Homo sapiens: one gene and its partners. The protein of the gene in region 3 purifies or fractionates together with the protein of the main gene of each other region. This does not show direct contact. Each region holds a gene or a part of one and is shown on either strand. Other genes may lie near its edges.

What was found.
Region 1: the proteins of ZNF562 (region 3) and SMARCAD1 purify together in Homo sapiens (affinity purification with mass spectrometry; 3 studies listed by BioGRID and IntAct, with this or other methods). This does not show direct contact.
Region 2: the proteins of ZNF562 (region 3) and ISLR purify together in Homo sapiens (affinity purification with mass spectrometry; 3 studies listed by BioGRID and IntAct, with this or other methods). This does not show direct contact.
Region 4: the proteins of ZNF562 (region 3) and RNF187 purify together in Homo sapiens (affinity purification with mass spectrometry; 3 studies listed by BioGRID and IntAct, with this or other methods). This does not show direct contact.

What each region holds. Positions count from the first base shown.
Region 1 is NC_000004.12:94,202,904-94,210,886, reverse strand, and holds the start of SMARCAD1 (SWI/SNF-related matrix-associated actin-dependent regulator of chromatin subfamily A containing DEAD/H box 1), read right to left. Parts: upstream 3,023-7,983; 5' UTR 2,817-3,022; intron 2,804-2,816; exon of another isoform or gene 2,645-2,803; intron 2,542-2,644; 5' UTR 2,493-2,541; coding exon 2,303-2,492; intron 1-2,302. UniProt on the Homo sapiens protein: DNA helicase that possesses intrinsic ATP-dependent nucleosome-remodeling activity and is both required for DNA repair and heterochromatin organization.
Region 2 is NC_000015.10:74,169,608-74,176,729, reverse strand, and holds the start of ISLR (immunoglobulin superfamily containing leucine-rich repeat protein precursor), read right to left. Parts: upstream 3,021-7,122; 5' UTR 2,711-3,020; intron 2,184-2,710; exon of another isoform or gene 2,077-2,183; intron 1,880-2,076; 5' UTR 1,872-1,879; coding exon 585-1,871; 3' UTR 1-584.
Region 3 is NC_000019.10:9,641,303-9,644,133, forward strand, and holds the end of ZNF562 (zinc finger protein 562), read right to left. Parts: 3' UTR 505-2,831; downstream 1-504. UniProt on the Homo sapiens protein: May be involved in transcriptional regulation.
Region 4 is NC_000001.11:228,490,362-228,496,705, reverse strand, and holds the end of RNF187 (E3 ubiquitin-protein ligase RNF187), read right to left. Parts: intron 3,654-6,344; coding exon 3,432-3,653; intron 2,824-3,431; coding exon 2,821-2,823; 3' UTR 518-2,820; downstream 1-517.

The DNA of each region.
Region 1 (7,983 bases), on a different chromosome or scaffold from region 3:
TCTAGGCTCACTGCAACCTCTGCCTCCCAGGTTCAAGCAATTCTTGTGCCTCAGCCTCCTGAGCAGCAGGGATTACAGGCACGCTCCACCATGCCTGGCTAATTTTTGTATTTTTAGTAGAGACGGGGTTTCACTATGTTGGCCAGGCTGGTCTTGTGATCTCAGGTGATTTGCCCACCTTTGCATCCCAAAGTGCTGGGATTACAGGCTTCAGCCACCGCGCATAAAAATCTTACCATTCATCTTATCTCATTCCCATCAGGGATCTAAACCCTGCCCTTCATTACTTTGAAACCTCTCATATCTCTTTCTTCTCCATTTCTACCGCTATCATTAAGCTCAATTACAGGAGTTGCCTAAATGTTTTCTTTCCCTTCAATCCCTACCCTCAATCAGTGTGTACTAGTCACTACTGCTAAACTGACTTTTAAAACTTTCTTTCACCATTTTCCATTCACTCTGTAAGTTCTTCAATGGATATCTAATACTTACAATGTAAAATCTAAACTTCTCAGTTTTCAAGATTCTCCAAAATTCACAGTATCATTTAAAACAATCTTTTATTAAAGCAAAGTGCTCCATTCCTACAAGGATTAATTCTCAACATTCCTAGAACAAACTTAGTTTTCTTATTTCCCGAAGCCATCAAGGCTGATCATGTAATTCCTAAAGCAATCTCAGTTTTTAAGCAGAATTTATGTATGGAAAAAAGTCCCAATAAAGAGAAAATGAGTGTTATCATTAGAAAGAAATAAAAACAGAAAAATATCTTCTGATCACTAAAGGAAATTAAAGATTTCACATGACCAATACTGATAAATAACTAAAACATTCCACTGAAATCCAGTTTACAAACTGCTTTCACTTTCAGAGATGAAAAAAGTGTGGATCACAGATTTCAAATGACTTGTCTAATGTCCCACATTTAACAAAAATGAAGAAGCAGAAGCTTCTATGGACTCGAAATCCCATGTCTACACCTTGGCTTTCCTGAACTATCTAACTACAGAGGAAACAGACAAATATATTCATTGGAAAAGCATTAAAATACCTGGATGTCAAATATCTATTCAAAGAGTGAACACAGGGATTAAAATCCTGGTGCTTAAAATCCTTCAGTTGTTCCCTATAGCATTTAAATTCAAAACTACTTAGACAAAGCCTTTGTAAATCTGACTCCTAATCCAATCTACCAAATCATTCTGCCAATTTCCAATTACACCAAAGTATTTAAAAATGTTATTCTAATGATAACTTGCAGAGGATCTGCCATCATTATTACATTTAAGTAGAAGGGTGGCAAACAAAAAGATACCAAGGATAAACATGTGTGTTACCAATCTTTCAGGCTACATTAAGTTAAAAGCTGTTTACGAAACAGAGTTTTGCATAAAAAAAGATATTACTGAAATAAATATTAAAATATAACTTCCAACATTCCTTTCACCTTTCCTAAGAAACTAACTAATTAGTTTATGCTCAGGAATCATACTGCCAGGACTTGAGTTCAGGCTCTACCAAGTTCCTAATAACCTCTCTGAATCTCATTTCACATTAACCTCTATGTCAGTAATATCTACCTTGTAGGATTATTGTGCAAATTAAATGACAGAAGGTGAAGCACTTATCACTATTCCTATAATACAACAAGAGCTCAAATATATTCCTCTAATAGTTAACTGTTCAATGAACATAGATTCGAGTGGAAATCTTAATTTTTGGCTTATCCTCAAATACTTTTGTCTCTGACAATCTGCTGATGAGGTTAAAAATGTTCATTCACCATGAAGAATACCAATTACTCATTTGCATTCTGAGGACATCCAGGAAGTCAGGTGGATGCAAGAACTTGATGTGATCTGATCTTCCCTTGTGTACAGAGGTTGTCTTTAGGCACCTTGCTCAATGTCTAGCTCACAGTAGATGATCAATATTTTGAGGGAATACTGGAATGAATGAAAATGTCTGCCCAAATAGCCTCAAAGTTTATCATAGGACTGAATCACTGACATCGCTCTTCCAATAGCAACCGTTCTGACCTATGGATGCCCTAAATTCTAATTTCAACTTCCACCATGGGGCCATATTCGAAGAACTCATATAAAAGTGAGGCGACAATGGATGGATGCTCAGTTGAGGGTACATGGTGCTTATGGCAGTCCCAAAGCTGTATTTAAAAGGGCACACCGCAGGACAATGCATCAATATATATGACATCAAGAATAAAAATGAGAATCCCTTCTGCCTTTCATCTTTTAAAAACTGTCCTTGATGTTACATCAATTTTAACATTGTAACTCACCTGTTTTTTCAGTTATATCTGAATCAGGAGTGTTTGCCCTGCTAACTTCCCCTTCAGCATTCTCCTCTTCAGCACTAAGAGAAATTGGTGAAGAAGGGCCAGGCTGGGAAGGTTGAGGGGTTGCTTCGGGCGCTTCCTCAATCTTATTCCTTTTCTCAAAGCGAAAACGGTCCAGGTTGAAAAGATTCATATTGGTAGAAAGCACCACCTTGCAGGGATGGGGGCTTTAAATGAACTATCTGCAGGGGAAAAATAAAGAGAGGAAAAAAGGCCATGAAAACAATATACGATACAATGCCACAGCAGTTTATTCCCAAGGCAATAAAGGGCCCGCAAACATGCCAGTGGCTCAGGACTGTTATGGCTGCGCTTCATTGTTAGGCCGCAACAATTAGAAGGTGGACGGGGGTATCTTTTAAAATTTTCCATTGCTTTTCACTCCCCTTCGTCCGCCTCCCCCGCCCGCCCCTCCTTACTGAAACCACGAGCTGACCCTCATGCAACCTCCTCTTACCCAAGCACGCGCAGGCACGTTCCCCAGTATAACCCCCTAGCGGGCCTCGCGCCCGCCCACAAAGAGAAGCTCCCTGTGCTACCGTGCCCCCTGCCTCGAGAAAGGACCTGCCAGGGCCCGCGCCTCGACACTGCGGGGACACAAAGGGGCCAAAGAAGGGGAGCGGCGGAGGCCGTGCTGGCGGGCATCCGCCCGGAAGTTGACGCGGCGCGATCCCAGCTGAGAGGAAGCTGATAGGATTAAGAACACACAGGAAGGTTCAGAGGTGGAGTGCATGCTAAGGCATCTTTTTAACGTTCAATCGCTCGCTTGTTCTTTCTTCCCTCAGTACTTACGATCTTGTAGCCTCAGTGCTATGTAACAAAGGTTGAAAATAAAAAAAAAATTTCCTAGCGTGGGGCGACGGTAGCCGTGCCGGGACCTTCCAAAACACCACGGAGAAACCTTAAGAGCGCGTAATGATGACGCAACACGCAGCCTAGGCTTTTTCTTCCCAAACAACGCGCGAGCCGACAATGTCGAGGCGCGCGCTGTTGTCATGGTAATTCGTACCCGTCTCCGCCGGCTTGTAAGGGCCAGATTGTTCTGTACCTTTGTCCTGTTAAATTATCTAGAGAGTTATTAAATAGAACAATAGTAAATAGCATAATGACAAAAAATAACAATATATAATACAATTAGTATATATTGTATGTATTATAATCTGTAGTGTTTCACCTATAATATAATGTAGATAGCATAATAGTAATAATACTGTGCTAAGCTTTTTCAGTGTATAATCCCAATCCTTACAAGAAGCCTATGTTTACAAAGCAAAGAAACTGAGACCTGCAAATGTATAGGTAATTAGTGACGGATAAGAACCCCGGGATGCTGAGCTTCAAAGCATTTAAAGTAATTCCTCACTTTCGGCTTGATTGTTCTTAGAATGGAATTTGATTAATTAATTAATTTTTTAAAAATATTTTAATTTTTAATGTTTGCGGGTACATAGTAGGTGTACATATTTATAGGGTACATGAGATATTTTGATACAGGCATGCAATGTGTAATAATCATATCAGGGTAAGTGGGGTATCCATAACAAGCATTTATCCTTTGTGTTTCAAACAATCCAGTTATTTTAGTCATTTAAAAATGTACAATAAGCTGGGAGTGGTGGCTCACGCCTGTAATCCCAGCACTTTGGGGGGCTGAGGCAGGTGAATCACAAGGTCAGGAGTTTGAGACCAGCCTAGCCAACATGGTGAAACTCCGTCTCTGCTAAATATACAAAAAATTAGCCGGGCGTAGTGGCGGGCGCCTGTAATCTCAGCTAATCGGGAGGCTGAGGCAGGAGAATAGCTTGAACCTGGGATGCGGAGGTTGCAGTTAGCCGAGATCACTCCACTGCACTCCACCCTGGGCAACAAAGCAAGACTCTTGTCTCAAAAAAAAAAGTACAATAAATTGTTGTTGACTGTAGTCATGCTATTGTGCTATCAAATACTAGATCTTATTCATTCAAACTGTATTTTCGTACCCATTAACCATGCTCACCGACCACCGGGGTCCTCCCCCGCCCCACACTACCCTTCCCAGCCTCTGGTAGCCATCGTTCTACCGTTTCTCATACGTTCAATTGTTTTAATTTTTTAGCTCCCACAAATATAATAAATGAGAACATACCAAGTTTTTTTTCTGTGCCTGCCTTATTTCCTTTAATATAATGACCTCCAGTTCCATCCATGTTGCAAATGACAGGATCTCATTTTTTTTAATGGCGAAATAATACTCCACTGTGTATATGCACCACATTTTTCTTATTCATTCACCTGTTAATGGACACTTAAGTTGCTTCCAAATCTTGGCTGTTGTGAATAGTGCTGCAACAAACATGAGAATGCAGATATCATTTCGATACACTGATTTCCTTTCTTTTGCATATAATTCACCTATCTTGATGGAAATGTTAGCTTAAGAATATATACTCCTGGCCGGGCGCAGTGGCTCACGCCTGTAATCCCAGCACTTTGGGAGGTGGAGGCGGGCGGATCATGAGGTCAGGAGATCGAGACCATCCTGGCCAACACGGTGAAACCCCGTCTCAACTAAAAATACAAAAAATTAGCCGGGCGTGGTGGCGGGCGCCTGTAGTCCTACCTACTCGGGAGGCTGAGGCAGGAGAATGGCATGAACCAGGGAGGCGGAGCTTGCAGTGAGCCGAGATCACGCCATTGCACTCCAGCCTGGGCAACTCCATCTCAAAAAAACAAAGAATATATACTCCTGGGCTAGGAGCAGTGGCTCACGTCTGTTATCCCAGCACTTTGGGAGGCCAAGGCAGAGCTGGGGCAACATAGTGAGACCCCATCTCTAAAAAAAATACAAAGTTATCCAGGCATGATGGCACACGTCTGTAGTCCCAGCTACTTTGGGGGCTGAGGCAGGAGGATCACTTGAGCCTGGGAGGTCGAGGCTGCAGTGAGCCATGTTTGCACCACTGCACTCTGGCCTGGGTGACAGAGCAAGACCCTGTCTCAAAAAAACAAAAAACTAAGATATACTCCCTTTGTTCCAACATTAGACAAGCAATTTTCTGAGTTATAATTTGAGCTTCTGGTTGGCATTTCCCATAAAGAGGAATTGCTACAAATGATCATTCTGCCAGATATATTAGCCATTGTAAACTTAAATTGCCAGTTTGTTTTATAAGTCAGTGTTGTGAATTGTATATTTACAACACATACCCACAGTTTTATCAAATGTGGGCACATTTATAAAATCAGGTGTCTGGGCCAATAAAACTCAAGATCAAAGCCTGAACAATTAGGACTTCCTTTATACCTATCTTTAATATCCCATGAAATGCATTAGTTTTATGCATGCATATTAAATTATGTGATCAAAGAATATATTTACTTATGGCCAGGCACAGCGGCTCATGCCTGTAATTCTAGCACTTTGGGAGACTGAGGTGGGAGGATCACTTGTGGCCAAGAGTTCAAGACCAGCCTGGGCAACAAAGGGAGACTTCATCTCTCTTTTTTTTTTTTTTGAGACAGGGTCTCACTCTGTCACCCAGGCTGGAGTTCAGTGGTTCAATTGTGGCTCACTGTAGCCTTGACTTCCCAGGCTCAAGCGATCCTCCCATCTCAGCCTCCCAAGTAGCTGGAACTACAGGTACTTGTCTCCATGCCTGACTAATTTTTGCATTTTTTGTAGAGATGGGGTTTTGCCATGTTGGCCTGGTGGTGGGGGTGGGGGGAGGCGGGTTGGGGGCATCAAGGCTGCAGTGAGCCATGATTGAAAGAAAAAGAAAAGAAAAAAATATATATTTACTTGTAAGTAGTAAATTATTTTTGGTGATGAAGACAATTTGATTTCTATTTAGAGAGATCTGACATTGAAAATGGACTCCTCTAGCTGAATGACCTTTCTAAGTCTTACTTTCATCATTCTTTAAATGTGATTAACAATAATATTGACGCTTAGAGTGCTTTTCTGCAACAGTACCACCTCTTGACGTTATAGCTGGGACAAGATTGAAAATGAACCACATAAATTAAAAATGTCTAAATATTTAAACATTATAAATATAGCCAACAAAGTGTAAAAGTTAAATATGTTCTTCCTATTTTGAAAATACCAGGGAAGCCAGGTTGAATTTAGAATTTCTATTGTGTCAGAATGTGGGTTAATGAAAGAGAATTGATTGGCTCATATATCCTGCCTTGCTAGTGTCACCTTTTCATACACAATTTGATACTAATGGTATCAATAACGATATCATAATGGGCCATGTGCTTATGCACATAGATGCCCAGCATATGGACACCCAACTCTGGCCCCCAACTAGGGTTACCATATTTGTTTTTTTTAAAAAAGGGATGTACAGTTAAATTTGAATTTTAAATAAACAATGAATACATTCTTAGTATAAATTTGTCTGATGAAATACTTGGAACTGATACTAAGACATTATTTGTTGTTTATCTGAAACTCAAATTTAACAAGTTGTCTTGTATTTTATTTGGCAAACTTACTGCTCTCCCACTCCTTTGTCACCTCTTGGACCTTGGGGCCTTTTGGCTACATTTTTGGCCTAGGGTTATAGATACTGAAAGCACTGTTTGCCCTCAGTAGGAAGGACCTCGGGAAAAGTCACTGTTAGACTTCTTGGGGCTGTGTGAGCAAAGAATTTTAGGGACCAGGTACTCAAATTATTGTCTAAAAGTGAAGGCACAAGTTCTGAATGAACACGTCTTCTTGGCCCCAAAGATTCCTTTAGGGCAGGGCATAGCTGGAAAGAACTAGATTTTGCCCTTTAAAGCACTAGACCAGGATAGGGACTCCTTTTGACCAGTTCTAAGGGTAGGATTTTTCTGCAACCTTCATTGACCTGGGAGAATTATAATGATTCATGATTGGGGTTCTCTTTGAAAGTGAAGTAGAAGTTTAAGGGTATGTATTAGTTTGCTAGGGCTGGTATATTAACAGCCTGGATGACTGAAACAACAGAAATTTATTTTCTCTTGGTCCCTGAGGCTAGATTTCCACTCTCAAGGTTTTGGTAGAGTTAGTATATTCTGAAAGCCATGAAGGAAAGATCTGTTGCAGACAATAGATGAAATCAATGAATTAGCCAGGCGTGGTGGCACACGCCTGTAGCCCTGGCTACTCAGGAGGCTGAGGCAGGAGAATTGCCTGAACCCAGGAGGCAAAGGTTGCAGTGAGCCATATCATGCCACTGCTTTAAAGGGTGACAGAGCAAGACTCCATCTCAAAAAAAAAAAAAAAAAAAACAATGAAATATGAAGAAATGATAAATATAAGATTCAGAGAAGTGAGAATGAAGCTTTGAATAATAGGTGTAAACAATCATACATACTCACACACACATACCAAAAAAAAAAGAAATAATGAAAAACATAATAGAAAACGTTCATGGGCTTTCATTTAGTCTGCATGTGAAAGAGCTTAGTGAATTCAGGCAGAATCAATTGAAAGAGACTATACAGTAAAAATATCCTGCAGAATTTGTTTTAATTTCAAGAATTTAAAAAATGTCTTGCAAGCATTTTTCAGAAAAAATCTACAGCCTACAAAGGGAAAGAAATCAAGCAAAAGCTTTTTTGTTAAACGTCAGAAAGTAATGATGCAATATTTATAATGATTTGGGGAAAAC
Region 2 (7,122 bases), on a different chromosome or scaffold from region 3:
GGAAGGAAGGCCATCCTGGATCCCCACATTTCAGTCTCAGATGAGGACAAAGGGACTCCCAAGCCCCCAAATCATCAGAAAACAGCAAGGAGCAGGAGGAGCTTGAGCAGGCCCCAGGGAGCCTCAGAGCCATACCAGCCACTGTCTACTTCCCATCCTCCTCTCCCATTCCCTGTCTGCTTCAGACCACCTCCCAGCTAAGCCCCAGCTCCATTCCCCCAATCCTGGCCCTTGCCAGCTTGACAGTCACAGTGCCTGGAATTCCACCACTGAGGCTTCTCCCAGTTGGATTAGGACGTCGCCCCGTTAGCATGCTGCCCCTGAGAGGAGAGCACAGGCAATGCTGTTAGCAGCAATGAGCACCGCAGACAGTGAGTTAGGGGATCAAATTCTATCCTAGTCACTAGTTTGGAGCAGGTCTAGAAGTTGGGGATAGCAGGTGCTCTAGAAGAGATTAGAAGGAGAGGTAGGAAAATGTGAAGTCACCCATGCAGGCCTCAGGAGTTGCCAACCCCAGACCCCTGCAGCACTTAAAGGGGCATTGGTAGGGGCAAGGGGAGGAGTTAGGGAAGCCCTGGGTGGGGCTAGAAGGAGGTGAGGAAGAAGAAGAGGAGGAGGCTTTGGCCCAGCAGGAGCAGGCCTGGGGGCAGCTGCCCAGGGACCCCTTCTGCGACTGCAGCCTCAGGGTTCCCAGCACGGCTGAGGTAGATGATGACCACATTGTCCTCCGGCCCTGATGGCTGCACCTCGTTGTCAACCGTATAGCAGCCCTTTCCCTCAACCGCTTTGCCATGGAACCTGCGCCCCAGTGTGTCCTCACCACCCTCACCGGGCGTGGCCAGTGCCACGTCCACTGAGCTCTCAGCACTGCCCAGCTCATTGGTGGCCAGGCAGCTGTAGGTGCCTTCCTCCAGCTTGCCAAAGTCGGGGATAAGCAGGCTGCCATTGGCAAAGGCCTGGAAGCGCGGCTGGGAGCTGGCCACAGGGGTGCCAGGCAGGGCACGCCCATCAGTGCCCACGTTGGGGCTGGTGATCTCCACAATGCCACTGGGTATCTGGATGTGCCAGTGAAGCTGAGGGGCCGGCTGCCCGTCCACATCACAGTGCAGTGCCAGCACAAAACCAGGCCGCAGCTCGGCACCATCCTGGCTGGGTTGGTAGCTGAGCTGCACTGAGGGCGCCGAGCATGGCAGTGGCGGCAGGCGGCTCAGCGGCGTACCCTTGAGCACATGGGGTGAGGTGCAGGCGATGTTGTCCTGCTCCGGGATGGACACGGCCGTGGTCAGGGCCCATGTCTTGAGCCACACGATGCCGCAGGTGCAGTCGAAGGGGTTCTCGTTGATCTGCAGGTGGGACAGCGCGGTGAGCGGGGTGAAGGTGCCCTCGGCCAATGTGTGCAAGCGGTTGTGGTTGAGTTGCAGCGAGCGCAGAGCACGGAGGCTGCGGAAGGCGTCGCGGGGGATGAAGGTCAGCTCGTTGCTGTCCATCTTGAGCAATTGGAGGGCACTGAGGTTGTGCAGGTCGCTCCAGGCAAAGTCAGAGATGAGATTGTGGCTGAGGTCCAGGCTCTTGAGATGGCTCAGAGAGGCCAGGGCTCCGGCGGCCACCGTGCGGATCTCATTGTGTGCCAGCCACAGCGACTGCAGCAGGGGCACCTCCCTGAAGGCACCCTCCGGCAAGCCTGGCAGCCGGTTGGCTGACAGGCTCAGTGTAGTCACATTGGCCGGGAAGCCAGGCGGCACGGATTCTAGGTCGCGGTAGGCACAGTCGGCGATCTGGAAGCCATACTTTTCCCCACAGTCGCAGGGCTCAGGGCAGGCCTGAGCCAGGCCCAGGAGAAGCGCCCACCAGAGCAGATGCAGCTCCTGCATGGTGCCTCCTGCAGAGAAAGGCATGTCACCCAGGGGATCCCGAGAACCTGCCAAAGGGACTCATTCCTCCCACAAGCCCAGCCAGAGCTCTTTCCCATCAGGAGGCCCTGTCCCACATAACCCAGCTAAATCCCAACACCACCTAGCCCACCGCCCCCATCCTACGGAAGGAGAAACTGAGGCCAAGAGAAGGGCGGAGACTTGCCCGAGGTCACGCAGCCAGGCAGGATGAAGACGGGATGGAAGAGGACCCCAGCTCCTCCTCCGAGTGGAGAGTTCTCCCTGCCTCGGCCTGTTCCTAGCTGACTTTATGACTTGAAATCTGTTTTCCAGCCACCCCCCTCCCCCAGCACTTTGCAGAACCTCCCCCTGCCCTCCCACATCCTGGCCGCAGTCCCTCCCACCGGAGCCCCCCATAGGTATGCTTTGCCTTGGCCCAGACGAGGCCCCTTGTGCAGTGCACACCACCCCCATCCACTCCACCCGCCCTCTCCCGCTCCTCCGGCCATGACCGCAGCAGACACCAGGCCTTTTCTGTGGAATCACACCCGTGGCCTGTTCTGTTCAAACTTAGCCAGGCAGCTGCCTAAATAAACCCCCGCCAGGACCTCTCAGCTGACTTGGGTGAGGCCAGAGGCTCAGCCCAAACGCAGCTGGGATTTCTGGGGCCTCAGTTGTGGGTTGTGGAAGAAGCAGATGCCCCCTGGACGGCTCCAAGCTAGGGATTGTCCCACGCACCTCAGACCAGCAGGGATGGACCAAGAGGGAACCAGCCCCTATGTCCAACAGGCCTCCCGCTCCCGCCGCTGGCCCTGGAGCCCTCCTCCCCACTGGCTTACCTTCAAGCTACTCTTAGTCAAGCGGAGCCTCTTCTAAGGTGGAACCAAAAAGCAACAGAGGACCTTAGCCCTGAGAGTCTGCAGGGCCACGGGCGCCCAAGGGAGGACTTGGATGCTGGGGCGAGGGGCAGCCTGGTCCCACCCCACCTTCGATGTGCAGGCCTGTGCCCTCCCTGCCCCAGACAGGGTGCCTGGAACCATCCACTGAGAGGAGGCGGCAGGGAGGAGCCCGGGGCAGCCCGCGCACTCCCTCCTTCCAGCAAAACAACTGCTTCTCTGCAGCAACAAGGACCTGTGTTTCATAAGTGACACCAGAAACTTGAGGGGGGAAGAGATGCCAAATTTTTTTGGGTTGTGTTTTTTCTCTCTCTCTCACTCACTTTTAGCAGCTTCAACTTCCTTAAAGACACAGCACTGTCTGGAAAGGACCCAAGAAATGATGGGGCCAGGAGGATTTTAGCGGGGGAAGGGCGAGAAATTGAATCTCATGGAAGGTGGGAGATTTCCACTTCAAACAAGAAAAAACGGGAAGCTTTTGTCCAAGCCAGGGTTGTATGTGTGTTGGTGTGTATACGTGTGTGTGTGTGTACAAGTTTGTGGGTGTGAGGGTGCGTATTTCTGGATTTGTATGTGTGTTTGCATGGATGTGGGTATGAAACCATGTACATGAGTTTGTGTGTGAGTGTGTGTGTGTGTCTGTCTTGGTGTGGGTTTGTGTGTGGAAGTGAGTGTGCATCCATGTGTGTGTGTTTCAGTGAAAAGCCAAGAAGGCCAAAGTGTACAAAGCAGATACCAACCCTTCGGTGAAAGCCAAGATGTTAGGCATTTTTTTTTTTTTTAAGAAAACATATCCTGCTGGCTCTGAGACTGAGCTGCGCTAAATGCATGTTGTTGTCCAGGGAGCTCCCAAGACTCCAGGCCCCGCCCCTCACTGCGCTCCCCACTGGCTGGGGAGGAAACAGGGAGGCCTGGCTCAGAAAACTCAGGGCGGGAGCCTGTTGACCTTCAGTGCTCCTGGCTGGGATTCTGAGCCACCCAGGCCCACTGCCCACTGGGCACCCAGAGGGGAGGCCAAGGGGCCGCACTCCCGGAGAGTTCTCTCTGTGTCCCCCACAGGGCCCAAAATCCCACTGTTGGTGCTGGACATCTACGCGGTCAGCATCGGCCTCTCTGAGCTCCACTGTTCCAACACCAACTGTGTGGAAGGGGCAGACGCCTCCAGGGTGAGGATATGTGACCCCTTTTCCAAACGGGAAGGCCCAGGGGAGGGGAATGGGGAAACAAAAGAGGCCCAAAACGAGGGAGCTGGAAGAGAAACCGAAAGATGAAGGAGCCCAGAAAAGAACTTTGTAGACTGAAGAATTTTGCTCTCCACAGACAAGCCTACCGTATCCCCTCAGTAGCCCTCCCCAAGCTTCCTTGGCCTTCCATCTGATAACTGGTTGAATTCTGCTCATGACTCAACTTACCCTCTCAGCAGGGCCAAGGGCAGACAGGGCTCATCTTTGGCTGAAAGCATCCCCAGGAAGCCTGCCCCAGCTCATCACACCCCATTCCCTGTCACCAAGCAAGGCCACAGAAGTCCCCAGCATGCTGCCTGCAAAACACCCGAGTCTGATGCTGAGGATATTATTATGGTCCAATGGAGAGCACCCTCTCTTTCCCCTGCAGAGGAAGCCCTCTCTTGCATCATCCTGACTGTGCTGGAGAATTTCTAGGAAAGTCCTGAATTTGGTGGGCCAACCAGAGGCTGCAAGAAACACATCCAGGGTTCAGTAAACCAGAGGGGAGACTCAGTGACCTCAGTGTCAGTCAGGGAGGGCTTCCTGGTGGAGGGGGCTTCACTATGTTCTGCACAGCCCATACACACACCCTCACCTGCACAAAGTCTGTGCCACCAGCTTTACCTCCAGGGTGCTCTGAGGAGCTCATAGTTCCCACCCCACCTCCCTCCTTGCAAGCACATCAGGGTCAGAGTACAAGCACCTCCTCAGCCCTCAGTTCCCAGTGACTGTTCTCTCAGACATTCCTGACTTTTCTTCATAGCTCCTCCTATAAGCTGTGATTATTTATTCATGCGTGCTTAATGTGCGACCCCTTACTAGAGAGGAAGCCCACTGAGGGCAGAGGCCTTAACTTCCCAGGTGCTATTGATCTCCAGCACAGGGAAGACACTCTGTAAGCGCCCCCTTCATGGCATGATGGACAAGTTGGGTGGTCATCAGAAGGAAGCATTTTAGAGCTCACCCACTTCATCTCCTCATCAACTTACAGATAGGGCCTTTGGGCCCAGGCTAGGGAAGGGGCATGCCCAAGACATTTTAGAGAATATTTCATACAGTGTAGGAGACCCATGCTCTGTTGGGTGGGTGAGTATGTCAGCAGCCTTCTGGGGGCAGGGAGTCTGTCCCCTCATTCCCTACCTAAGACCTTAATGACAGCCAAACACTAAGCTCAGACTCCCACCTCAAAACAGATGTGGGGGGCTGAGGGCGGGAAAAGTGGGAGGGACCAGCCCACCTGGGCAGAAATGAGACTGTGCGTGCTGGTCACTGATGTATCTTCCTGGTCTGCTCAGGTCCTGCCACTGCCTGCAAGGTGTGGCCATACCCGCTTCCACCAGGAAGGACAATAAGGCCGCCAGGATCTCAGCCAAGGACTATTGACTCTCCAAGGTGTCTCACAGTGGGACAGGTGGGCCTGCTCCTCAGCAGAGCCCAGGAGCAGTTGTGCAGGCCTCTGAGGATGGGGCGTATGACCTCCTGGGTTGCCCCTCTGCTCTTCTCTTGCTGTCAGAGCTCAAGTTCTTTCTGTAAAGCCCACCTCACAGGAGATCATGCCAGCAGGCAGGGAGACAAGTCAGAAGTCGGGCTCCCTGATCTTTTCAGGCTGGGAGCTTCCTGTGGGCTGTCTGGGCTGCCATCTCCCCTCTCCTGGCCTCCTCTAAATTGGGCTCAGGCCTGAGATGGGGACCCTTGGTGAGTATGTGCGGCCCTGACTGTCCCCAGAACTAGGAGGCCAAGCTTGGGAGCCCCTCCTGTGAGTCCTGGCCCTGTCTCCTGTGGGTCCCTGGCAGCTTGTAGGGTGACCAGCCAACAGTCCTGGTTCACCTGGAACTGATGGGTTTTCTGGGACATGGGACTTTCCATGCTAAAATCGAGACAGTCTCAGCAAACCAGTACAGTTGGTCACCCTAGCAGGGGAGGGGGGCTCACTCCCTCCCACAGTTTTTCTTTCCCCCTGCTCCCCTTCCTGCCTGCAGAGGTCCAGCCCTCTCTCCTCCCATTCCGCTGCCTCTCGCTCTGCTCCTGCTCCTGCTGCCCCTAGCCAGGGCGCCAGCCGCACCCCAGCTGTGGCTGCTCAACCAGGACTCCCCCACCCCAGAAGGCCTCACTCCCACTGACCAGGGGCACCACGTCAGCTTTTCCTGGAAGGCAAAAAAAAAGATCCTGATGAGAAGATGGAGCGAGAGGGACAAGCCCAGCAGAGACAGAAAACTGGAGAGAAACAGAGAAATGAGAGAGACACCAGGAAAGAGAGGGAAAAACAGAGAATCACAGCCTCCTTTCTGGAGGTAGAGAAAGGAAGCAAGGGAGAAAGACCCAGAAAGAGAGATGGAGGAAGAAGGTCTGAACCCGGAAACAGGCTCTGAGAGGAGAGAGGCAGTCGGGGGCTGCTGTGGTCAGCTGTGGTTGTGGGCTGTAGCCATCCCACCAAGAGGGGCAGAGTCTATCTTGGTCCCGACACTGTATTCCCCCCAGCAGCCTGCTGGAATAGCTGGGAGGAAACTCGGGGCACTCCTGGTGGGACTTGGTTAAGCCTGTGGGTGTCCTGGGAGAGAGAGGCTGTTGAGAAGATAGGGTTATGGAAGGAGCTTTGGACAGCTGGTGGGACTGCGTGCGTGCATGTGTGTGTGTGTGTGTGTGCGCGCGCACACACACACAACATGCACATGCATGGGGGGACATAGAGTGATCTGCCTAGGTCACCAAATTATGAGGCTTCCTTTTTCTAGGCCTTAGTGCCTCTGTCATACGTGAGAGTTGGTCTAAAGTCCTTTGGCCCCTATATTCTGCCTGTTTAGAATTCTCAAAAATGTCTACACTAACACAAGGGGCCCGTGTGCATGCGTGTGTTCATGCACAATTTCTGTGTGCATGCATGTGAAAGGTGAGCCTGTGACTATTCTCCATGTGTGTGTGTTGTTCATGCACAAGTGTGGGGATGTGAGGTGGAGTGAGCAGGAGCTCGTGGCATGTGCACCCAGGGCTGTGGATGGGGGAGAGGCACTGCAGGCCCTATCTTCTCTTCTGGCGTCACCCTAGCCCAGAGGTTGCAGCTGACCTTACCTGGGGTGGCCTCACTCCCATTTCCTCCCCATTCTCCTCCACCCCTTCCCACCACTTGGGCAT
Region 3 (2,831 bases):
AGGCATCCCTGACTGAGTCCTGGGCTTTAATGTGGGTGAGCAGCCAAAGCAGGCATCCCTGCAATTGACCTGCCATCAAGGGAATGTGGGTGAATGATCAAGGAAGGCATCTCCGCAGTGATCAAACGCCAAGGGAAGACTGTCTTCCCAAGTCCATGACCAACATCGGAGTCTTTGGATGCACGGATAAAATGTGTCTGCTTTTTGTCTCTACTAGGAAGGGAGAGAAACTGAAACTGAAAGAAGAGAGATTGAAGGGAGGTGAGAGAGGTTAGGTAGAGAGCAAAAAAACCGCTTATCCAAGTGCAAAAAAACCGCTTACCGATTTGAAATTAGTGAGACGATCCTTGGGCTGGCTGGTCTGATGACCCGAGGTCATAGGTGGATCTCCTCATGGAGGGAGTGTAATGACAGGGGATGGGTCTCCTGAGGAGTTCTAATGTCCCAGGTTTCAGCACAAAATGTTACATGCGTCTGAGTAAAGAGAGCACCTAGCAGGCTTTGTGCGAGCAACAATGGCTGTGTATTACATCCGGATGTGGATGGGCTGTCCAACAAAACAGTCAGCAAAGGGTGGTGGGATTATCATTAGTTCTCATAGGTTTGGGATAAGCGGTGGAGTTAGGAGCAATTTTTTTTGTAGGCAGTGGGGTGGACGTTACAAAGTACATTCTCAAGGGCGGGGAGGATGTTACAAAGTACATTCACAAGGGCGGGGAGGGTGTATCATCACAAGGGTGGGGAGGAAGGTTACAAAGTACATTTACAAGGAGAGGAAAGGTGTACTGTCACAAGGGCCAATGGCAGGGTACATTCACTAGGTGGGGGAGGATGTATCTTATAAAGTACATTCACAAGGGCAGGGGAATATCACAAAGTACATTATCACAAGGGCGGGGGGATGTCACAATGGCTTGACCATGGTATGGCCAGCTCAGAGTACCTTACAGTTCTGATGTTTAAAATTACATTCTTTTTTTTCTTTAAAAAAAAAAAAAAAAACAGGGTTTCACTCTGTCACACAGGCTGAAGTATAGTGGCATTATCATGGCTCACTGCAGCCTTTACTTCCTGGGCTCAAGCAGTCCTTTGCCTGAGTACCAGGGACTACATACGTGCACCACCACATCCAGCTAATTTTTAAAAATATATTTTGTAGAGAAGAGATCTCTCTATGTTGCCTAGGCTGCCCTCAAACTCCTGAGCTCAAGCGATCATCCTTCCTTGGCCTCCCACATTGTTGGCATTACAACTGTGAGCCACTCTGCTTGGCCCTTTATTCTTTTACATATTTAATTTTTTAAAAAATCAACAAAGATAGAGGGAAAACCCAAAATGGAATACGAACAGGAACAATCAATCTGAACTTTGTATCAAATGGGTAATAAGACTATGTAACAGGAACAACACAACAACAGTTGCTGCCTAGACATTAGAAATAGAGGCCAGGCACAGTGGCTCAACCCTGTCATCCTAGCATTTTGGGAGGCTGATGCAGAAGGATAACTTGAACAGGATTTCAAGACCAGCCTGGGCAATATAGTGAGACACAGTCTCGACCAAAAAAAAAAAAATTTAAAAATAAAAAAATTAGCCGGGCCTGGTGGTACATGCCTGCATTCCCAGCTACTCAGAAGGCTGAGGTGAGAGGATTGCTTGAGCCCAGGAGGTCGAGGCTGCAGTGAGCTATGATTGCACCACTGCACTCCAGCCTAGGTGACATGGCAAGACACTGTCTCTGGAAAAAAAAAAAAAAAAAAAGAACACCACCGGCCACTGTGGCTCATTCCTGTAATCCCAGCACTTTGGGAGGTTGAATCAGGCTGAATCAGGGGGGTCTCAGGAGTTCAAGACCATCCTGGCCAACATGGCAAAACCCCGCCTCTACTGAAAATACAAAAATTAGCTGGGTGTGGTGGTGCACACCTGTAATCCCAGGTACTTGGGAGGCTGAGGCAGGAGAATCACTTGAACCCAGGAATTGGAGGTTGCAGTGAGCTGAGATCACGCCACTGCACTCCAGCCTGGGTGACAGAGCGAGACTCTGTCATTCATAAATAAATAAGTTTAGAAAAAAAAAATGTGTCTGAAAGGGTCTTGAGCATCCCTCTGGGCAAATTCCAGGCATCATCCATAATGATGAATGCACAAATACAAAGATACGAATGAGCCAGAGCCAACCTTATATTCCTGCAGTAAATGCCACTGGGTTTACTATTTTCTTATCAAGCAGTTGGAATTTATTTGCTAATCCGTTCCTTCCTAGCTTCCTTTTTTCCTTCTTTTTTTTTTTTTTTTAAATGGAGTCTTGCTCTGTTGCCCAGGCTGGAATGCAGTGGCATGATCTTGGCTCACTGCATTTTTTAATTTTTAAGTTTTTTGTAGATGGGGGGCTTGCTATGCTGTCCAGGCAGGTCTCGAACTCCTGAGCTCAAGTAATCCTTTTGCCTCCTTTCAAAGTGTTGAGACTCCAGGCATAAGCCACTTTGCCCAGTTGCTACTATTATACTTAGCGCATTTTTTTGTTTGTTTGTTTTTTGAGACAGTCTTACTCTGTATCCCAGGCTGGAGTGCAGTGGTGTGATCTCGGTTCACTGTAACCTCCTGCCTCAGCCTCCCGAGTAGCTAGGAATACATGCACATGCCACCACGCCCAGCTATATTTTTTTAGTTTTAGTAGATACAAGGTTTCACCGTTTTAGCCAGGATCATCTCAATCTGACCTTGTGATCCACCTGCCTCAGCCTCCCAAAGTGCTGGGATTACAGGCATGTGAGCCACCGTACCTGGCTTACTTAGTGAATTTGTACCAATATTCATTACCAATATAA
Region 4 (6,344 bases), on a different chromosome or scaffold from region 3:
AATGGCCAACAGGTATATAAAAAAATGCTCAACATCATTAATCATCAGGGAAACGTAAACCAAATCACAATGAGATTATCTCACACTTCTTAGAATGACTAATTTCAAAGAAAATAAATGTTGGTGAGTATGTAAATTATTATAGCCATTATGGAGAAGCATATGGAGGTTATTCAAAAACTTAAAAAGAGTACCGTGACCCAGCAATCCTACTGCTAAGTATTTTCCCAAAGGAAACGACATGAATATATGGAAGAGATACCCACACTCCTGTGTTTCTTAAGAGCACTTTTACAACAGTCAAGATACGGAATCAACCTACGTGGTCTAGAAGCAAAGTGATAAAGGGATAAAGTGGATAAATGGCTTAAGAAAATGTGGTGTATACACATCATGGAATACTATTTGGCCATAAAAAAGGAAACCCTGCCATTTGCAACATGGGTGAATTTACAGGACATTTATATTAAGTGAAATAAGCCAGGAACAGGACAAATATCACATGATCTCACTTATATGTGGAATCAAAATGTTGATTTATAGAATTAGAGAGTAGAACGGTGGTTAGCAGGGGCTGAGACAAGAGGATTTGGGGAAATTCTAGTCAGAGGGTACAGAGTCCCTGCTATACAAGAATAAACTCAAGGTCTATTGCACAGCATGGTGACTTCAGCTGATAACCGTGTACTGTACGCAGTTGGCCCTCTGTATCTGACTGTCCCACATATGTGCAGAGGGAGGGCTGACTGCAGGGTACTTGAGTATCTGCAGATTTTGGTATCCATGAGGGGGTCCTGGAACCAATCCCCCTTAGGCACAGAGGGATGACTGTATTTGAAATTGCTGAGTGTAGATTTCAAATATTCTCACCACCAAAAAAAACATGAGATGGATACATTAATCTGTCACTCCACAATGTACATAGATATCAAAACATCACACTGTGCCCCATAAATATATAATTTTCTTAAATAGAAAGAGGTTGTGATTGACAGGGTGGGATGTTGCTGGTCAGCTAGGTTAGGTGAGGATGGTGAAGCCACTGTCGGACCTGGTGATGTGGAGACACTGATGTTGTGGGAGACTCTGCCATCAGGACCTGTCCGGGCAAGCATCACAGGTGTGCAGGGCAGGGGCAGGGATGCTCAGGGATGACAGCAGACTGCAGCAGGCGGAGACAGTGAGAAAGACAAACTGGAGGTCTCAGGGTCGGGATGTTGTTGGCGTGCTGACAAAGATTCTCTACTTGGCCAAACTCTGGCCAGGCTCTGGAATCTTCTCCTAGGGCCCTCTTTGCCCTTTCTTATGAAATCCAGTTTTAGCAAGAACCCTAATTTGGTTAACCATAATATCTGACCACCCTCAATGGTACCTGACTGGGTTCCTCTCTGACCGTTTGCAGCCAATGTCTGATCGCCCTGCCTGCCTGCAGCAAGGACTCTGTGAGGTGGGTTTAGCCAGAGCCCCCTCAGCCCTGATGTCTCCTCACAGTCATTCCCACCCATGGACCCTATACTGCTCCTCGCTCCTCCAACCCCTGCCCTGCTACGTCGGGGTGGAGCCCCATCTCCCCCCAGGCCCCAAGGAAAGGGTCCCACACCCATCTCAATGGTCCCAATCAAAGTCCTCCTCACCATGCTTTAGCACGTGTCACGAGGAAGTTTCCTTTGACACTGGAGGGTGGCCAGGGCAGGGGGAAGAGGCCAGGTGGACACACGGAGACGAAGCAAACGAGCTGACACAAACCCACTTTATTCAGCATTGAGCCAGCCCACACGCTGGGCAGGTCAAACTCACAGACATCGCACCAAGGGCCGGGGACTCAGAAGGGCTGAAAGGCTTCATCTGGAAATGGGCACCGCTCACAAGCCCGGCTATCCCCAAATCTCAACAACTGTCTGCATCTATGTCCCCGACTTTGCAATCCTGTCCCCAGTGCTGAGTTTCTGTCGACTAATTTATCTACACACAAGGATGCTGCAGGCAACTGAGCTACTGCTACAAGCTTTGCAAAATTCAACTACTAAAGGAAATGGGAGGAGGGAAAGAGCTAGAGATAACAGCAAGATGAGACACGATGGCAGGGCCTGGAGATGCTAAATGGGGTTAGCCACCTGCCAGCCCCCTCACCCAGGGAAACAGAGAAAGAGGCTTCCTTCTGCGGAGGCAGGTGGAGCACAGGGAGGGCTCCTGGGAGGCACAGGAGTGGGGTGGGGGCCAGGAAGGGGGAGGTGGACAGAGCGACTTGGATAAGGCTGGGCCGGGCCCACGCCCACCTCAAGAGGGGGGCCGCCTCCTCAGGAGGCATCAAGGTGCAATCCAGTCTTCCTTTCTCTCCCTGAAGACCTGAGTTCCAGCCTTCACAGAGCGTCATGCGCATTCTTCTTTCTGGATGCTAACCCCAAATCCGACACTCAATGGTGCACCTCAGGTACCTGCCAAGGATCTGTGGGCCCACATGGAAGGTGCAGGGTCTGGGTCCCTGGATGACGAGGTGAGGGGCAGATGGGTGACCAGGGAAGGGCATGACCCAGAGCTGCCGGGACTCATGGAGGATGGGCTGTGGCTAGGACTTCAGGAAGGGACGGGCACAGGTGGGAAGGGTCCTCAGGTCCAGCCTCTACCGGGAGGTGTTTGCAGCCCCCAAAACACGCCTCGGGGTGAAGGATAAATGGACATTGTTGAAACACGCAACTATGTAGATGGACCCAAGGCCAGGCGCCTGCCACGCTTCCCTGGCAGCCACACGCTGACACTTCCCATGGAGATGAGGATCCATCCTCCTGCCTCCAGCTCTGGGACTGCCACGGGTTGGCGCCATCACTGCATGGGAGGGGAGAGGGAAAGACAGAGAGACAAAAAGAGAAAGAGACACACAGAGTCAGAGACAGAGGCAAAAGGAGAGAGCGAAAGAGAGAGCGCACATGAGACAGCGCATGAGGTACTGTCCTGAGCACAACAAACCCAGGGCCTGGCCCAGACTTCCGTCTCCCCAGGGCCAAAGCCTTGTCACCTATGGCTGGCACGGGCAACTGAACCGTTCAGGGCCATCTGGGTTGCTGCAGGGTCTGGGGTTCAGGCCAGGCCCTGGGCAGAGGCAGAAGAAAAGCCCTGAGGTTGGGTTTCTTGGCTGCTTCTGCCTTCAGGACCCCAGGGCGAGGCAGGAGCCTTCCATGCTCGGGCACTCGGGATGCCAAGTGCCCTCCTTTGTGAAGGTCAGGGACACCTCAGACCCTCCTCAACTTAAAACCCCTTCCCATCACCTTCCCTGACCACCCACCCATTCCCGAAATTCAGCCCTGCAAGGCCACGGCAGTGGGAGTCAGGCTGGGCTTTTAAGCCTTGACTTCGGGCAATGGTCCCCCAATGGCTCGCTGCTGCCTGCGTCCACCCTGGCCCGATGGTGGGCAGACCCAGCGGGGCTCCCGCACCTGCAGCAGCATGCTGAGGCCCAGGTTGCGATGCTTCTTCTCCAGCTCCGAGACCGCCTGCAGCAGTGACCTGAACCGCTCAGTGGGGTCAGCCAGCTCGTCCTCAGGGAGCCCCTCCTCCTTCTCAGCCTCCTGCAGGAAATGCTCCTCCTCCTCCACAAAGAAGGCCCGCAGCTTCTTGTAGTCGGTCAGTGCCTTCTTCCTACGGTCCATCACGTGTCCCTGCAAACGGGTGGCAGGAAAAGACCTGTGTCCTCACCCACCCTCCCCAGGGGAAGGGGAACCTGTTTGCTCTTGAAGGAGTTAAGAACATGCCACTCCAAAACATGCTGCTCAGGCACATCGACTATTAGGCCAGGCACAGTGGCTCACGCTTGTAATCCCAGCACTCCAGGAGGCCAAGGCGGGCGGATCATGAGGTCAGGAGTTCAAGACCAGCCTGACCAACATGGTGAAACCCCGTCTCTACTAAAAATACAAAAATGAGCCAGGCGTGGTGGCACGCCTGTAATCCCAGCTAATCGGGAGGCTGAGGCAGGTGAATCACTTGAATCCAGGAGGCGGAGGTTGCAGTGAGCCCGAGTTCATGCTACTGCACTCCAGCCTGGGCGACAGAGCGAGACTCCATCTCAAAAAAAAAAAAAAAAAAAAAAAAAGCCAGGCACGGGGGCTCACGCCTATAATCCCAGCACTTTGGGAGGCTGAGGCAGACAGAACATGAGGTCCGGAGATTAAGACCATCCTGGCCAACCTGCTGAAACCCCATCTCTACTACAAATATAAAAATTAGCTGGGCGTGGTGGCGCACGCCTGTAGTCCCAGCTACTTGGGAGGCTGAAGCAGGAGAATCGCTTGAACCTGGGAGGCAGAGGTTGCGGTGAGCCAAAAAAAAACAAAAAACAAAAAAAAAAACAATAACAGAAGAGGCCTGGCACGGTGCCTCATGCCTGTAATCACAGTACTTTGGGAGGCTGAGGTGGGAGGATTGCTTGAGCCCAGGAGTTCGAGACTAGCCTGGGCAACAGTGAAAACCTGTCTCTACTAAAAATCAAAAACATTAGCCAGGCATAGTGGTGCACACCTATGGTCCCAGCAACTCGGGAGGCTGAGGTAAGACGATCGCTTGAGCCCAGGAGTTTGAGGCTGCAGTGAGCTATGACCATACCACTGCACTCCAGCCTGGGCCAACAGAGCAAGGCCTTTTTTAAAAAAAATCAAAAAACAGTGCAAGATCACCCTGACCTCCATTCTGCTTCTTAAAAGCAAATGAAATTCCCAAGTGAAAGACGCCCTCCCCATATCAAATAAAATGATTTTATCATCAAGGACGACAGGAAGTCAAGGCCGACAGAATTTGGTACAGACCTTGTGAAAACAACTCTTTCAAGCATCCCCACATCATGTAGTTGCTTTTTTACAAGTGGCTAGTCTTTGTCCAAGTCAGTATATAAGTGATTTAATTTTGCCACTTTGAGTCTTCATTTCATTATAAGGGAGCCTGTGCTGTATAAAACTTGTGTTAAATTAATATGCCTGGCTGGACACGGTGGCTCACACCTGTAATCCCAGCACTTTGGGAGGCCGAGGTGGTTGGATCACTTGAGGTCAGGAGTTCAAGACCAGCCTGGCCAACATGGTGAAACCCCATCTCCACTAAAAATACAAGATTAGCCAGGCGTGGTGGTGCACACCTGTAGTCGCAGTTACTCGGGAGGCTGAGGCAGGAGAACCACTTGAACCAAGGAGGTGGAGGATGCAGTGAGGCAAGATCGCACCACTGCACTCCAGCCTGGGCAACAGAGCAAGACTCCATCTCAAAAAAAAAAAATCCTATGTTTTTTCTCCCATTAACCCATCTCCCTTTATTTTTTTTTTTTTTTTTTTTTTGAGATAGGGCCTCACTCTGTCACCCATGTTGGAGTGCAGTGGTGCCATCACAGTTCACTGCAGCCTCAACCTCTTGGGCTTAAGTGATCCTCCCACCTCAGCCTCCCAAGTAGCTGGGACCACAGATGCAACACCATACCTGGCTAATTTATTAATTTTTGTACAGATGGTGGTCTCACTATGTTACCCAGGCTGGTCTCGAACTCCTAGCCTCAAGCAATCCTCCTACACCTCAGCCTCCCAAGTTGCTGGGATTACAGGCATGAACCACTGCACCTGACCCTGTTAGTTTAGCTTATGTCAGTTTAATTCTCCCGCCCAGCCTGGGGCCCTAAAAGGGGAGAAATAGAGTTCTTTCTCCCCTACACTGCAGTGCTCAGCTGCACAGGAAGACTGTCCCTCTCCCATCTCCCATGGCCAAGGGGACAGTAAATCCTTGAGTGGCCCTGCTAGGTCTAGAGCCTGTCAGGCACGTGACTGTCAGGGCAGGACACACACCCATCTTGCCAGCAACTGTCCCTGCTGTGCCCACACCAGAACTCCAATGGCTGAAAACCATCCCATCAGCCTTCAACAAACAGCATTCACACTTGCCACTCTTCAGCTGGTTTTCAGCCAACTCCTAACCTTGCAAACAGGAGAGCAGAGCAGGATGCTACTCTGATTTTACTCAGTCATGGATGGCTTCCACCTGGCCCTGGGCCACACAGGGCAGGTGACACCCATAGTCATGAGGGGCCAAGGCTTTTGTTGCTGAGAATGCAAATGACAGCTGGGTGTCTGCTGGCTGGCTGATGCAACACGCTGCAAACTCCTTCCTTTGGATTTAGGTGGCTTCTCTCATCCCAGCATCTAAGCCACAAACCCCCAAAACAGGACAGATTGAAAGCTCCAACCTGCTAAAATCTGTGGGCAAAACAATTCCCTTGGGGTAACACAGGGTTACTGAAAACTTGGAGGTCCCCAAAGCCTTCCAGCCTCACTTGCACTGGGCAGTGTTGACCACTCACAAGGCAAGGAGAAGTT